Linked DNA regions of Homo sapiens: region 1 is linked to region 2. The links come from fine-mapping of genetic effects on gene expression. Tissue or cell type: whole blood. Region 2 holds a variant in brackets; the other region holds the start of a gene. All regions are shown on one strand. Distances are from middle to middle.

Region 1 (6,173 bases), 130 kb after region 2:
ATTTTTAAATGTTCACTCTTCTGTTCTCTTTGGAAGCAATACTTTAATACATTGTAACATGCACAGCAGAGTAAAGTTCATTTCAATAGATCTACCCACTCTACTTGAATTTAAGTAAGTTACTATGTTGGGGGAATTAACTGCTTTGGCTGGAAAGTTTGCTCCAATTTTTATCCTTCTTAACTCAAGTAAATTATAGTTCACCTCCTCTGGGTCACTTTTAGCTCAACACTGCACTCGCCAATGATGGCCAGAGAGAGAGATTATAATTACTTGTCATCAAACTATTTTTGCCATGGTTATATATATTAATGTCTGTTCATCTACAGACATACATCTGAAATTCATAACTACATGGATATATTTTTCATCTTTTTCTATACATCAATTGGAAATAGATTTAAAAAGGGGCAAGCACAAGTCATTATTAAGAGGGCAACTACTGCGTTTTTAAGAATTATGATCAGGCCAGGTGCGGTGGCTCACGCCTGTAATCCCAGCACTTTGGGAGGCCCAAGTGGGTGGATTGCGTGAGCCCAGGAGTTTGAGACAAGCCTGGGCAACATGGCAAAACCCCATCTCTACAAAAAAAAAAAATCAGCCGGGCACAGTGGCTTGAGTAGTCCCAGCTACTCGGGAGGCTGAGGTGGGAGTAGACTTGAGCCGTGAGGGAGAGGTTGCAATGAGCTGAGATTGCGCCATTACACTCCAACGTGGGCGATACAGCAAGACCCCATCTCATAAAGAAAAAAGAATTATGATTATTCAATAATACAAGTCAGTAAGCATTCTTCCAGAGCCAGCAATGCAGTCTCCTTTCAATTGTAATGAAGCTCCTGTGTTTGGGCCTTATATAATACTACAGCTAAGGAAAGACATAGTTTTTTTTTAATTTATTTATTTATTGAGACAGTTTCGCTCTTGTCGCCCAGGCTGGAGTGCAATGGCGCAATCTCAGCTCATCGCAACCTCCACCTCCCAGGTTCAAGCGATTCTCCTGCCTCAGCCTCCTGAGCAGCTGGAGTTACAGGCATGTGCCACCACGCCCAGCTAGTTTTGTATTTTTAGTAGAGACAGGGTTTCTCCATGTTGGCCAGGCTGGTCTCAAACTCCCGACCTCAGGTGATCCGTCTGCCTCGGCCTCCCAAAGTTTTGGGATTATAGGCATGAGCCACCGGGCTCTGCCCAGTTTTATTTTTAAGGTACTGAATTCAAAAAGTTTCCTTCTATGTGTTAAGAATTGTCACATTAAAATATAAAGGCAAGAAAAAAATTGTAACACGATCTGTTTTCTTGGAAATTTACAACTTTGCATCCAAGGATGATTTTGTTACCTTGTAAAACAGCTTCCCAATACAAAAACTAATAACCCAAAGAAATGTTTCTACTGCTAAAACAATTACAATTAAAAATGAGTAAAACTCTAACTGGAACCACAAGTCCTGATACTCTGAGGCTCTGGGACTCAATTCAAAGGAAGTAGTCTCCAACAATAACAAAAATCAAGACGATCTCCGGCAGTGGAGAAAAGCAGAACTGAAGAGAAGAGGCGAGGTGATGTATCATGAAGAGATGAGGCCATCAGCCACTTTCGACACAAAAATCTCTGAGGCAGCAGAGCTTGGTGGTATATACTACCTTGGTTCTCTCCTCTTGTTCCCTTACTTGGACTCATAAACCTCTTTAAGACATCATCCATCTCCTCCAGAACTAACTGGGGACTTCAGGAGATGAGTGGGGTATAAGTTCAGAGATCCTGGCTTCAAGCAAATATCCCTATTAACAGAAAATAGGTGAGGGGAAGAAAAACAAAGAAATAAGGGAAGAAAATTACTTATAAACACATAAGTTTTGGGGGAAGTAGGGAAAGGGAAAGAGGAATGACAACTTAGGTCCGGGAGAAATTATTGCTAGTACCAGGACAAGTGGGCAAGTGAAGTGCCCACCAATCCGCAGATTAATGAGCACATCCACCTTTCTACACTTTATATCCTGGAGCTAGGGTAGGGACAAGTCTAGCAGCCAGATGATGGTTCAATTTCCCTAACAAAACTAAACAAAAATGTAAAACCCTTTTCTGTAACTAACTACTCTAATCTGTAGAGAAAGATAGTCCCCGAATCAACATTGTACAAACCATAGTTACAAAAGATCATATTTATATTCACCTGCTCATTCACTTATTTTCCTGAGCCCCTAATAAGTAAACGCCAAGGAAATCAGACACAGCTCCCACCTTCACATAGTTGACAGTCTAGCATAGAAAATAAGATGTGCTAAAACACAAAAGGAAACACAAAAACAAAAACATTTCCAGATGGGAGATGTGAAATTTTTAAGTGTGAAAAATTATCTTGTACCAAGTTTTACATGAAACTGGGTTATACAATAAATCCCCAAGAAGGATGAGAAACAAGAAATGGGGGTGGGGGGTATGAAAAATACTAATGCTAATACAGCAACTAACAACACCAAAAGTGACTTTAAATATGTTATATAAATTTAATCTACCTAACAACCCCATGAGAGAAGTACAATTTTCCCCCATTTACTAAGAAGGAAAGTTGAAAGAGACTAAGAAGTCTGTTTAAGAGGCACAACTTTTATTTTATTTATTTATTTGAGACGGAGTTTCACTCTTGTTGCCTAGGCTGGAGTGCAATGGCGAGATCTTGGCTCACTGCAACCTCCGCCTCCCGGGTTAAGAGGCACAACTTCTAAGTGACAGAGGTAGGATTTGAATCTAGGCACCCTGATTCTTACCTCTATTTTGCCGCATATAATTATAACAATATTATTACTAACACAACAACGCCGCTGTAGATTGTAGATCCATAGGCTACATACTTTCATTCATTTTCTTTGAATACTCACATGTCTATAATTTACAAATGAAAACATTAAGACTCTTAAGACGTTAAGAAACGTTTCCAGGTTATGCAAGTTACAAGAAGGTAGAGCCGGGATTCGAACTCAGATGGCTCAGATTCCGAAGGCTCTTTTCACGGCACCCCACACCCGAACTTGACTCCTTACCCTCAACCAAGCCAAGCCGTATCCCTCCTGGGAACAGCCGGCACCACCCACTCCAGCCTCGCGCCTCATAGACACACTTACTCGGGCGGCGTTCCACCGCCCGCACCCTCCCAGCTCTCCCCAGCACCCTCGTCCAGCCGGGCAAGGCTCTCACCAGGCGGGAGTCGTGGGACCCTCGCAATCTTGCTGGTGATCTCTGCAGTGAGCACCGCGAAGTCCTGCTCGTAACCTTCGAAGTCGGACGACATGGCGGCTCCGGAACGAGTAGCCCAGGCCAAAGCCTAGGTCAGGGAAAGGGCCTCGAGGGGCAGCGAGGGGCCCCGCGGCTTAGGAACCCCGGAAGGTGCCCCCGAGAGCAGAACGGAGAACCGGGGACAGCTCTCAACCCAGCCGCTTCCTGGTTGTTCGTCGCAATCTCGGTTCTCCGGAAATTGGGTTGCGTGCGTGCTTTATTTTCCGCTCCGACTTTAAGATAAGTAAGTTCGCAAAGGAAAAGCGCCCCAATTAGTGCCTCCCCCCAGAAAAGCGTATGAAAATATGCAAGTTCTGAGGGATCATTAGAAGCGTTTTTTCCCCCCTTCGTGTTCTGGGAATCGGCTCCGGATCCACACGCTACAAGGCACAGCAGCTTGCTTCCGGAGGGAGGTTTGAGGCGGCGAACCTCCGGAAGTGACAGTAACAGAGACTGCGCAGGGGGCCTGAGCGGGAGAGTCCTGGCGAGGGCGCTGGCCGAGAGGTGCTCGGCTTGTAGCAGGTCCCGCACTCCAGCCTCTCGCTGCCAGGGTTTGCTCTCTGCTTGTCCTGGGCTGAGGTGTCCATGACGGAGTCATCCAAGGAGGAAAAAATCTGTTCCGGGTGAGCCCAGGCCGCCCCGGATATGCGATGGCTGAGGAGCAGACACCAGGGACCACACTGAGGTGGGAGTCAAGGCAGGGAATATAAGCACGATTTTGGTGGTCTTTGTCCCACCAGAGTGGGAGCAGGCTCTCCTGAATGTTGAGACCAACCTGGCTTACCAGGATATTTCTTCCTTGGGTGAGGATTTATTTCTAAGCCCTCTGCTCCATGACTCGGGCGGGAAACTGAGGCACAAGTCAACAGCGTCTGCTGCGTGGTAGTCTGTATTATCCATGTAGCTCAGATCCTCTTCCAGATCTTCAGATCCAGTCCAGGCAGAGATGCCCTTCCACAAATCTCTCCGGAGCTCGCCGCCCTGCCTTCCATTTCCCTCGCTCCTGGAGGCACTTCCTCTTCTTTCTTCCCTCGAATCTTCTAATTCAGGTTCTTCTCATATACTCTTCTGGTCATAATTTCACACACACCACACACACTCTCGCTCTATCTCCTCCCTTCCTTTCCTTGCATGCTCTCTTTGCTTTCACTGTCGCTCCTTTACTTTTGGGCCAAATTGACTGTTCTCTTGATGTTTGGGTGGCGGGGTGGAGGAGACTGCAGGCAAATGGCATAGACCATGTCTGACTCATACTTGGCTTAATTCAAGACTTCATAAGAGGCAGCTTAGAATTTCATAAAGGGAGGTCGTTGACTTGCCTTCTATTCTGGTTCACCTGTTACTTGTGACCTTGGTCTAATCACTCAGCCTCTCTAAGACAATTTCTGTTCTATGAAGAAGGAAACTGAATTAGATCAACTCTAAGGTCCTAAAATTCTTTGTCTTCTCAAACTATTCACTAAGCGTTGGATGGTGACAGTCCCCTGACAAGCGGAGAAGGAATAAAAAAAACTATTTTGGAATCGTGTATCCAGTTTGCATGCCATTCAAACTTGTACCATATTTTGGATAAGTCAAAAGTAGTTCTTTTTGACATTTGACAAGATATGCATCCCAAAGTGTAGTGCACTTGTGAGATGCTGTTGTGTAGGTGTTTATTGTAGTTAACAAGTATGGTATGCAATAAAGGTTTTGTTTTGTTTTGTTTTAACTGAACTTTCCCATTTTGTTTTCTTTAGGTTGGGTTTCAGACCAAGACACTGGATTCTCCTAGTTAAGATAAAGAGCTTTGGGTGCCTGACAGTGAAAATGGTGTAATCTGCGTTAACAGTTCACAGCTTGAAGGCATGACAATTAAAGAACACACATGGACTTGTGGCACATGGAAATGTGCGCACAGAAAAAGGAAATCTATAATTCTTTTAAAGTAGGAAGGCATTCTTCCTTGCCAAAATGGGTACATTCTGTTCGGTTATCAAGTTTGAAAATCTACAAGAATTAAAGAGACTGTGTCACTGGGGTCCCATCATAGCCCTTGGTGTTATAGCAATATGTTCTACCATGGCCATGATTGACTCTGTGTTGTGGTATTGGCCCTTACATACAACTGGAGGAAGTGTGAATTTCATCATGTTGATAAATTGGACTGTCATGATTCTTTATAATTACTTCAATGCCATGTTTGTCGGTCCGGGCTTTGTCCCTCTGGGGTGGAAACCGGTAAGAAAGATTCTGTAAGACAATGAACTTTAATGATAATCGTATATTTGGTTTTTGCCTTATCTACTAACCAATAATACCAAACACAGCCTACTGTTTGTCCTCACAGAGACTAAGTATATTACTCTAATCACTGATCATTTAGGCTCGGAGACTTTATTTCATATCTGTTTGAACACATTGATCCAAAATAGCATTTTCCAAAGCAATTTTATTGAATATTTGCTCTGCATTAAAAAAAAGATGGAGGTGGGGTGGAGGTGGGATAGGTTCATGGTCAAAAGTTTAGGAAACATCACATGTCATACACAGTGAGGTTTGGCTGTAGTACCTTTTTTCATGTAATACATTAACATCCCTTAGAACTGAGAAAAACGCTTTAGAAACTGCTGGTTTAAATCATAAAGTTTTAAAATCATTGCACTGAAAATATAACATTGGGAAGTATAGTCCAAATCCATTTATAGCTTAAAAACTACTGGGAAATTTATGCTTATGAATGTCCATGTTTCCTGCTAAGGGACCACACCTGATGGCTTGTCAGAAAGGCAGAATCTTGGGCTCCACTTCAGACATACTGAAGCAGAATCTTTATTTTAATAAAGTGCCCAGGTGATGCTTAGGTATATTAAAGTTCGGGAAGCACTGGTGTATATCATGTGCTATGTACTATTCAAAATGCGTA
Region 2 (7,848 bases):
AACAAAGGCGCTTAGGACAACAGACCTGAATGCAACCGCATTCCTGATAAAGCGGATATACACACAAACATATCCAACAGAGAAATGGCCTTCAGATTTGAGGGTTTTCTAAAATCAAACTTAGGGACCTGAGAAAATGAAAAAGAAGACATTACCAAACCGAAGTTGTTATCCGGGCTTAAAACTACATATGGTGTCTAGGTGAGTAAAGCCATACAAATCCTCTGCTGTTATTATCAGCACCCAGGGCCAGAAGGCACAAGAGAATCATGAAAGTACGAGTTGAGCTCCAAGAACTCTGCTCTTGATCATCGCTTATCCTTTTATCGCTCCCCTTTCCTTTCTTTATCTCTATAAGATGCCCACATGCATATAAGACATGAAACATGAAACCACTTAAACGATTTGGGAAGAGTTTACAGAACTGCTCTAGTATTGAATACATGTATCAGCAAACGTGCCTCCCTTCCTGGGCATCATGGTCAGTGGTAAAGCTGGGCAGGTCACTGATGGAGATTTAGAGGGTCTTATTTTCTTGGAGGTTTTTTACAGCCAAGAGATACTTACTGGTGTTCTTCAAAGCTGGTGCACAGTGGTGGTCTCCAGGTGGCTGACCTCACAGAGGAGTTATATTTACAATATAATAATATTTATACGTTAAAAAAGTGACTAAAAACACGTTTAAGTTAAAAGGCACTAATCAAGTATAAGATGGCATCACTATTATAGATTAATAATTTAGAACACTTCAAGTTTAAGTATTGCCTTGTTAGGTCATAACAAATTTAACAAGGTAAGCGTTTTGGAGTTTCCTCTCTACCAAAGTCATTCTTGGACCACAAGTCTTTAAAATCACTACTTTTCTACCACCTAAAAGGCACAGCCATGCCCTCAAAGGTTTCCACTAGCTATGTCACCATGAGATCTGGAGAAGGGCTCACAAGCAAGATGACCAGAGATGGTTCCACAATTTCCATACTTAACAGCGACCTTGGGGGCTGCTGGGGTGGAAGGAATGTACTTGGCATGTGAGGAGAACATATATTTGGGGGAACAAGAGGTGAATTCTATGGATTGAATGTCTTTGCCCACTAAAATTCATAGATTGAAACCCTAATCCCCAATGTAATATATCTGGAGAATGCACACTGGGGAGGTCATGAGGTCATGGGATCGAGGTCTGCATGATGGATTAGTGCCCGCATAAGAAGAGACAGGAGAGAGTGTCCTTCTCTCTCTTTCTAACTCCACGACAGAGCAAGAAGACAGCCATCTGCAAGCCAGGAAGAGAGTCCTCACCAGAATTCCACCATGCTGGCACCCTGATCTCAGACTTCCAGCCTCTAGAACTGGAGAAATAAATTTCTGTTGTTTAAGCCACCCAGCCTGTGGTATTCTGTTATGGTAGCCTGAGCTGACTAAGACAGAAATTAGCATCAAGACAGAAAGGTGTGTCAAGGAGGTAAGTCAGAGATATTGCCGTGAAGTTGCATTTGCACATCAAACATGTTATTTTTACTTAGATGTTATAGTAAAGATATTCCAATTGTAGTTTAGAGCATTTTGCCTATTAAGTTTCTTCTTTCCACATATTAGGTTGTGATACTATCAACCTAAAGTGCCTTTCAGGGGAGGTGCTAATAGAGATTATGGAGGTGGCTAGTGTCCTCCCTCTTCAATTTGCCCCTTAAATTCTGCCATTGATGAAGACGCATCAGGAAGTGCTATTTGCTAACAGGAATGCTGTCGCTGATCTATAGATCTCTATAAACATAAATGGAAATTCCAGTGTCTATATCTGCATCATCATCATCATAATCAATCATCATCATCATAATTTATCAAGAGCTTACTATTAATATATACCTTGCATTGTATAAGGATTTCACATTATCACATCTAATTTGTCTACCAAACCCACAAGGTAGGTACTTCTGTTATCTCAATCTTGCAGATTAGAAAAGTGAGGCTGAAAGCCTAAGTAACTTACACAAGGTGATTTTTATGAGTCCCAATAAAAATCAGACCACATACTCAAATTGGTAATTTAAGCAGACCTTGTAACAGAGATAATTTAAAAGGCGTGGGAAACCACAAGGCCTGGCACACTAACCTGGGGCAAGTAACAGTGGACAAGTTATCACCCCTAGGCTTGAATATGGGAAGGGAGGGAGGAGTTATCAGGACTCTGAAAGAAAGGGCTATGCAGAGAGAATGATGCAGCCAGCCCACTGCAATCCCAGAGGAAGAGAACCAAGTGAATTCATACCTGGACTACACTCTCCTCCCTGTGTTCCATCTTCTGCCAGAGCTCCCACGGGGTGACCTAACTGGAACCCAGAAGGCATGCGGAGCCCACTGGTGTGATCCATAGAGTTGATCTTCCTAGGAACTATGCAGGGTGCATGTGGGAAATGCAAACTTATATTTAGCATGATCATATGGTGTATAAATGCTAGTAGGTCTTGGGTTCAGATCCAAATCTATTGCTATGGACTATCAGGCTATATACACTGCCCTCTAAGAAGACATGTACATTCGTAATTCCAGTACGTAGTTATTCCTAAATATTCTATATTCAAAATCTTGAAATTCTCAAAATCTCCATTTAGTCAACCAGACTCCCACATTCCTTCTTTCCCTTCTTGGTTCTCTATGCACACTGTGAAATGTCAATCACCTGATGCCCCCCTTTTCCTCCTATCTGTCACCCTGATTTGGCCTTTCACTGCCTCCCCATCTGGCCTGCCTCCCACAGTTAGCCATTTCAACTTTGCACTCCCTACTACCCTACAGTCACTCCCTCTTTGTTCTCCTGTCACTCCTAGTCTGCTAGTTCTCAAAAGGCATCAACTTTCCACTGTTCACTTTCTTGGCTTCCATTCTTGGTCTGCCAAGCAATCCTGGGGAGAACTGTGAAACCATGTTATTGAGCCCAATACACATTAATGCTTCCTAACCTCAGCTGGGCCTTTGCGATGGTTCAGCAATTTCCAATCCCGCTCCTGCTGAGTCACCTTGACATTCCCCACCACAACTGTTCTCAGCCTTTCCCATCTTCTTTCTAAGTTCTTGACCTTGCCTTTCACCTTCAGGGAGTAACTTGGCTTCCTATTTGGAATCATGGTGATTCTCCAGAAGTTCTCTCTTCTATATTTATACATTATTCAAAATCTATCTTCTGCTTCTTTCACCCCTGCTTCAGAGGAAGTGTTTCTCCTTTCTGAGGTTACATCTTCAACTTCTGCTGTTGATTCCATCCCTTTGTACATCTTCCAGGTCCTGAAATGATCAATGAGGTTCCTTCATGCTGGCATCACTACCCCTTTACCAGTTTCCACCTCTAGGCCCCAACACATGATCAGGGATCTCTAGCCTGAACGTAAGAAAAAAAATAATAATTCTAATCCTCATCAAAACCACCTTTTTTTCTTCCCCAGTCACTTTTTCTTAAAAAGAAAATTCTAGGATCAACTTTTCCACTACTCAAACTTTTCTGTTCCTAAAAGCCACCACTTCCTACCTGTTTGAATACTCTCTGGGTCTTCTATAGTATTTAATTATTCTAAGTTACTTCTCTTTCTTGAAAAATCTCTTTCTTTAGCTTCCATGATGCTGCACTTCCCAGAGTTATCTGCAAATTCTCTTCACTTACTTTCTCCCACTTTCTCTTTTCTCCTGTGAAATGCACTTTCCTTAGGGTTCTAAGGCTCTTTTCTTCTCTATTAGTATTCTCTGGGTGATCTTATTTATTCCCGTATTTTAAATGTGTTTCTGAAAAGTAGCATTTATGAGATGACTTTAAGTGGAACATGAACTGACACTTTTTTATTTGGAAACTTTGTTCAATCTAACCTTAGTCAGCATCTATTGTAAGATATACCTTTTTTTAGTTTTTATTTTAAAAGACAATGTCTCACTATGTTGCCCAGACTGGTCTCAAATTCCTGGCCTCAAGCCATCCTCCCACCTCGGCCTCCTAAAGTGCTGCGATTACAGGTGTGAGCCACAGTGCCCAGCCAGATGCACCATTTTTTATACACTACTCAGAAAACAGCTGTCAACTAAATTATGACACTATATTTTCTTATCATTTAAAATTTTTATTTTATGCTTATTCAATGAGCTCTTTTTGACTCAGAGATCTTACATACATCTCTCTTGTGCATACACAAAATGGAAATATAAGCAAAATGAATGGGTTAAGGTTTTCCTAGAATTTTTCCACACATAAGTGTCCACCTCTTCTGATTCACTTTTCAACTTACAGTCATCAATGTCCTCTGCACCTGATGCTGCATCAAGGGTACTGGGATACGGCATCTCTTAAGTGTGTCTCTGGGATTATCTTCCATGTTGCTGATACTATTCTGTAAGTTTCCATGTACCAGAAAGTAAGGTTTTTCAGATGACAATTAAACTCATATTCTTTTCTATAAAGATCCTTAAATGGTTTGTTGATAGAAACTTACACTTTTCTGCTGATGTCACCAGGAATAGCAAGCAAGTTGGCTCATGTGCTGAC[A/G]ATGACAAGTATATCACCACTGTTGCTGGCCTGCAGAGTTTGTAAGATGCCATTAATTGTAAAACACTCTAATTACAGAAATGTTAAATTGTAAAAAGATACACATCTTACAATCATGCAATATGGTAATTATACATCTAATGGGTATCTTAAAAACTATATCCATCACATCAAATTCAAGATATTATTGTTTAGAATGGGGCTACGCTTTCAAAAAGTGAGCTAACTTAAAATAGATTTGAAAATATTAAGTAAAAGTATCATGCAAATATGACAAAAAGCTTACAAGTTGCACTCATATGGATAAAGTTTGAAATATATAGATTTAAATGACTATCAGTTCAAGAATGATTTATGTCTACATGTCTAACTATAACTTCATTCCTAAGCTTCAATCCCAGAGGTTTGACTGGCTACTCAATGAAAACACTTGGGCACTTTGTTAATATCTTAAATTCAGTATTTTCTGCCCTCCAAACCTATTCTTCCTCCTGATTTTCCTTTACTGTTTACTCAATCAATATATACCTTTTACTCAACCAGAAACCGTGGATTTCTGATAGGGTTTCTCCTAACTCTCCCTTCATCCCTGCCCCCCACCTCCTATCCTCAGAGCCAAATTGCTGCGTCTGTTGATTCTTCCTCAGTGATGTCTCTGGCATCCATCCTCTCTTCTTCATTCCTGCTCTCACAGCCCTAATTCGAGCCTCAGTTATTTCTTCTATGACCTGCTGCCATACTGTCTGAAATGCTTTCCTTAGGGTTTCTTCTCCTCTGAGCTGTCCTATATGCCACTGGCCAGATTCGTCTCCTAAAGCATCGTTATCACCAGGTCACTTCTTGGGCTCAAAAAGGTTCAAACAAAACAATAAGAAAGTTACTTCACATTTACATAGTATTTCCGGACTTTTTTCATTTGATTTTCTCAGCAAGTCTATGAGGTCGGATAAGCGTTATTAACCCCATTCAAAAGAAGAAATGAGAATAGAAAATGGGTAAATGATTTGCTGAAACTTAAACAGCGAACGGATTTGGTGGTCTGATGGTCTTTTCCCTGCATCATGCCCTCTTGCAATTCTTCACTGCCTGGAAGGCTGCTTGGCTGATTTAACCACGTACATATGATTCTATGTCTAATTTTAAAATACAATTTTTGATTAAATTATATTTCCAGCTTGTCCATCTCCCAGTTCCTTTCCCACACTACTACCAGGATAATGTTCCTTAAGTATAGGCCTCATCATATCACCCTGTCATTCATATGCCTTTAATAAGAACATATTAGAAGCTATTGAACACAACTTTTTACTTGGCATGTTATTTGTTCACAATGTTATCCCCACAGGGGATGGCTTTCTTTGTAACTGCTCCCAATCTTCAAGGCCCCATTCCAAATGTTATCTTCTTCTTCAACCTGGACTTAGTTTCCCAAAACCCTCTCACTTTTAACTGTTTACCAAAGAGTGCCTGGTCTACTCTTGGTGGTATATACTTCAATCATTATACAATTATATATTTAGATATTAGGGAAAGCTTGACTGGTATGTCTAACTCATGCGGATAAGGATATGTAATAAAAAATTTCAGTTGCTTTAAAGTTGGTTGATAGAAAAATATTGTTATAGAGTGAATGTCTCTGTCCCCCAAAATTCACACGTTGAAGCCCTAACCCCTAGATGTGATAGTACAGGTAATCAGGTTTAGATGAGGTCATGAGGTCTCCATGATGGGATTAGTGTCCTTATAAAAAGAGGAAGAAAGATCAGAGCTCTCTCCCCACCACGTGAGGACTCAGTGAGTTCTTTGTAGGCATGTTTTATGTTCCCTCTTGGAATATACAAGCTCTAAGTTAGAGCTAAAACTTATTTATCTATGCATCCCTAACATAAACTGTGGATTGTGACCTTATAGACGGATTATAAAATCAATTTAGAAATCAAGACTGCCATTTCTTTTTTTAAAACAACAAGAGTAGAAAATATTGGCATATACTATCTGTAGTTAGCAAGGCTAAGTATTGTTTCATAAAATATTTATTTCAGTTTTGTGTGTGTGGGTGTGTGTAATATAAATTGTGACGTGAAATGTATTTCTTACTATAGGTCATGATAACAAAATTTGAAAAATACTGCTGTGACATATATAGCCTAAAGCCCTGTACATATTTGGCACTCAAATATAGAATGAAGGAATGCTTCTTGAAATATCAGAAAACATCTTATTTTTAATCTTCGTCTGATTAGGAAAGTAATGCATCATTAAAATATTACCATTATAGATGATGGGAGGTAGTACCTTGTAATCACCATTCCACCATCCCACCCCAAGATACTCTTGAGAGTTTAATATTTATTCCAAGAATATATTTAAAATGTAATTTCAACTTCCACTTGGAAATTTTTTTATTATCTTCAGATTCCAAAGTTTCTATTTTGAGAATGGTACAGTTCTAAGGCTATTAAATTGGGTGTTTCCTGAATGTTAGCACAGTGCCTGGCTCCTAGGAGGTACTTAGAAACGATCTAATGATTAAATGCATGCTAAAACAGCAAATATTTTGAACATGTTAGGTCTGGCCCTTTTAGAAGAGGCAGGGGGCCGGGCGCGGTGGCTCACGCCTGTAATCCCAGCACTTTGGGAGGCCGAGCGGGGCGGATCACGAGGTCAGGAGATCGAGACCATCTTAGCTAACACGGTGAAACCCCGTCTCTACTAAAAACACAAAAAATTAGCCGGGCGCGGTGGCTGTTGCCCGTAGTCCCAGCTACTCAGGAGGCTGAGGCAGGAGAACGGCGTGAACCCGGGAGGCGGAGCTTGCAGTGAGCCGAGATAGCGCCACTGCAGTCCGGCCTGGGCGAAAGAGCGAGACTCCCTCTCAAAAAAAAAAAAAAAAAAAGAAAAGAAAAGAAAAGGCAGGGGGCAGGGTGGGAATGGGCAAAAGATACACAGAATGAACAAACAAAGAAAAATTCACGAGAGGTTTAAACTTTTCTACACAATAAATTGCTAATTGGAAGCTATTCTCTTCAACAAGATATCATCTAAAATAATGGAATAGTATTAATTTAACAGAACAATTTGAATGCTAAAAATATGAAGTCTATCAGGCAAAATCGTTTCAATGGCTCCAATGCTGCTGAGAAAATTAAAAAGACAATGAAATGATTTTATGAATGTTCCTTCATAACAAGAATAACATAGTGCCATCCTTCAAGTTAAATATTAAACAATTAATTTCATAAGGTAAAAGGTAATTTTGTTTTGTAATTAGTTAATAAATTGCTAATTTAAATGAGGGCAGTATTAATTCCACTGGACTGTAA

Evidence for each region. PIP is the estimated chance that this variant, and not a neighbour inherited with it, causes the effect.
Region 1: it holds the start of VTI1A, and the variant in region 2 is fine-mapped to the expression of VTI1A in whole blood (TOPMed, PIP above 0.99).

What each region holds. Positions count from the first base shown.
Region 1 is chr10:112,444,485-112,450,657 of GRCh38, reverse strand. It overlaps VTI1A (vesicle transport through interaction with t-SNAREs 1A), which reads right to left and starts at 3,443. Exons shown (of 8, transcript NM_145206.4): 1 at 3,191-3,443. The coding sequence starts at 3,284. It overlaps ZDHHC6 (zDHHC palmitoyltransferase 6), which reads left to right and starts at 3,744. Exons shown (of 11, transcript NM_022494.3): 1 at 3,744-3,953; 2 at 5,008-5,488. The coding sequence starts at 5,222. RefSeq lists enhancers at 3,378-3,637, 3,838-3,957.
Region 2 is chr10:112,575,593-112,583,440 of GRCh38, reverse strand. The region is part of intron 5 of VTI1A (vesicle transport through interaction with t-SNAREs 1A); the gene reads right to left. Among named protein-coding and RNA genes, the nearest start is that of MIR4295, 55 kb to the left of the region's middle. The variant A/G (reference allele first, on the strand shown) is at 4,526.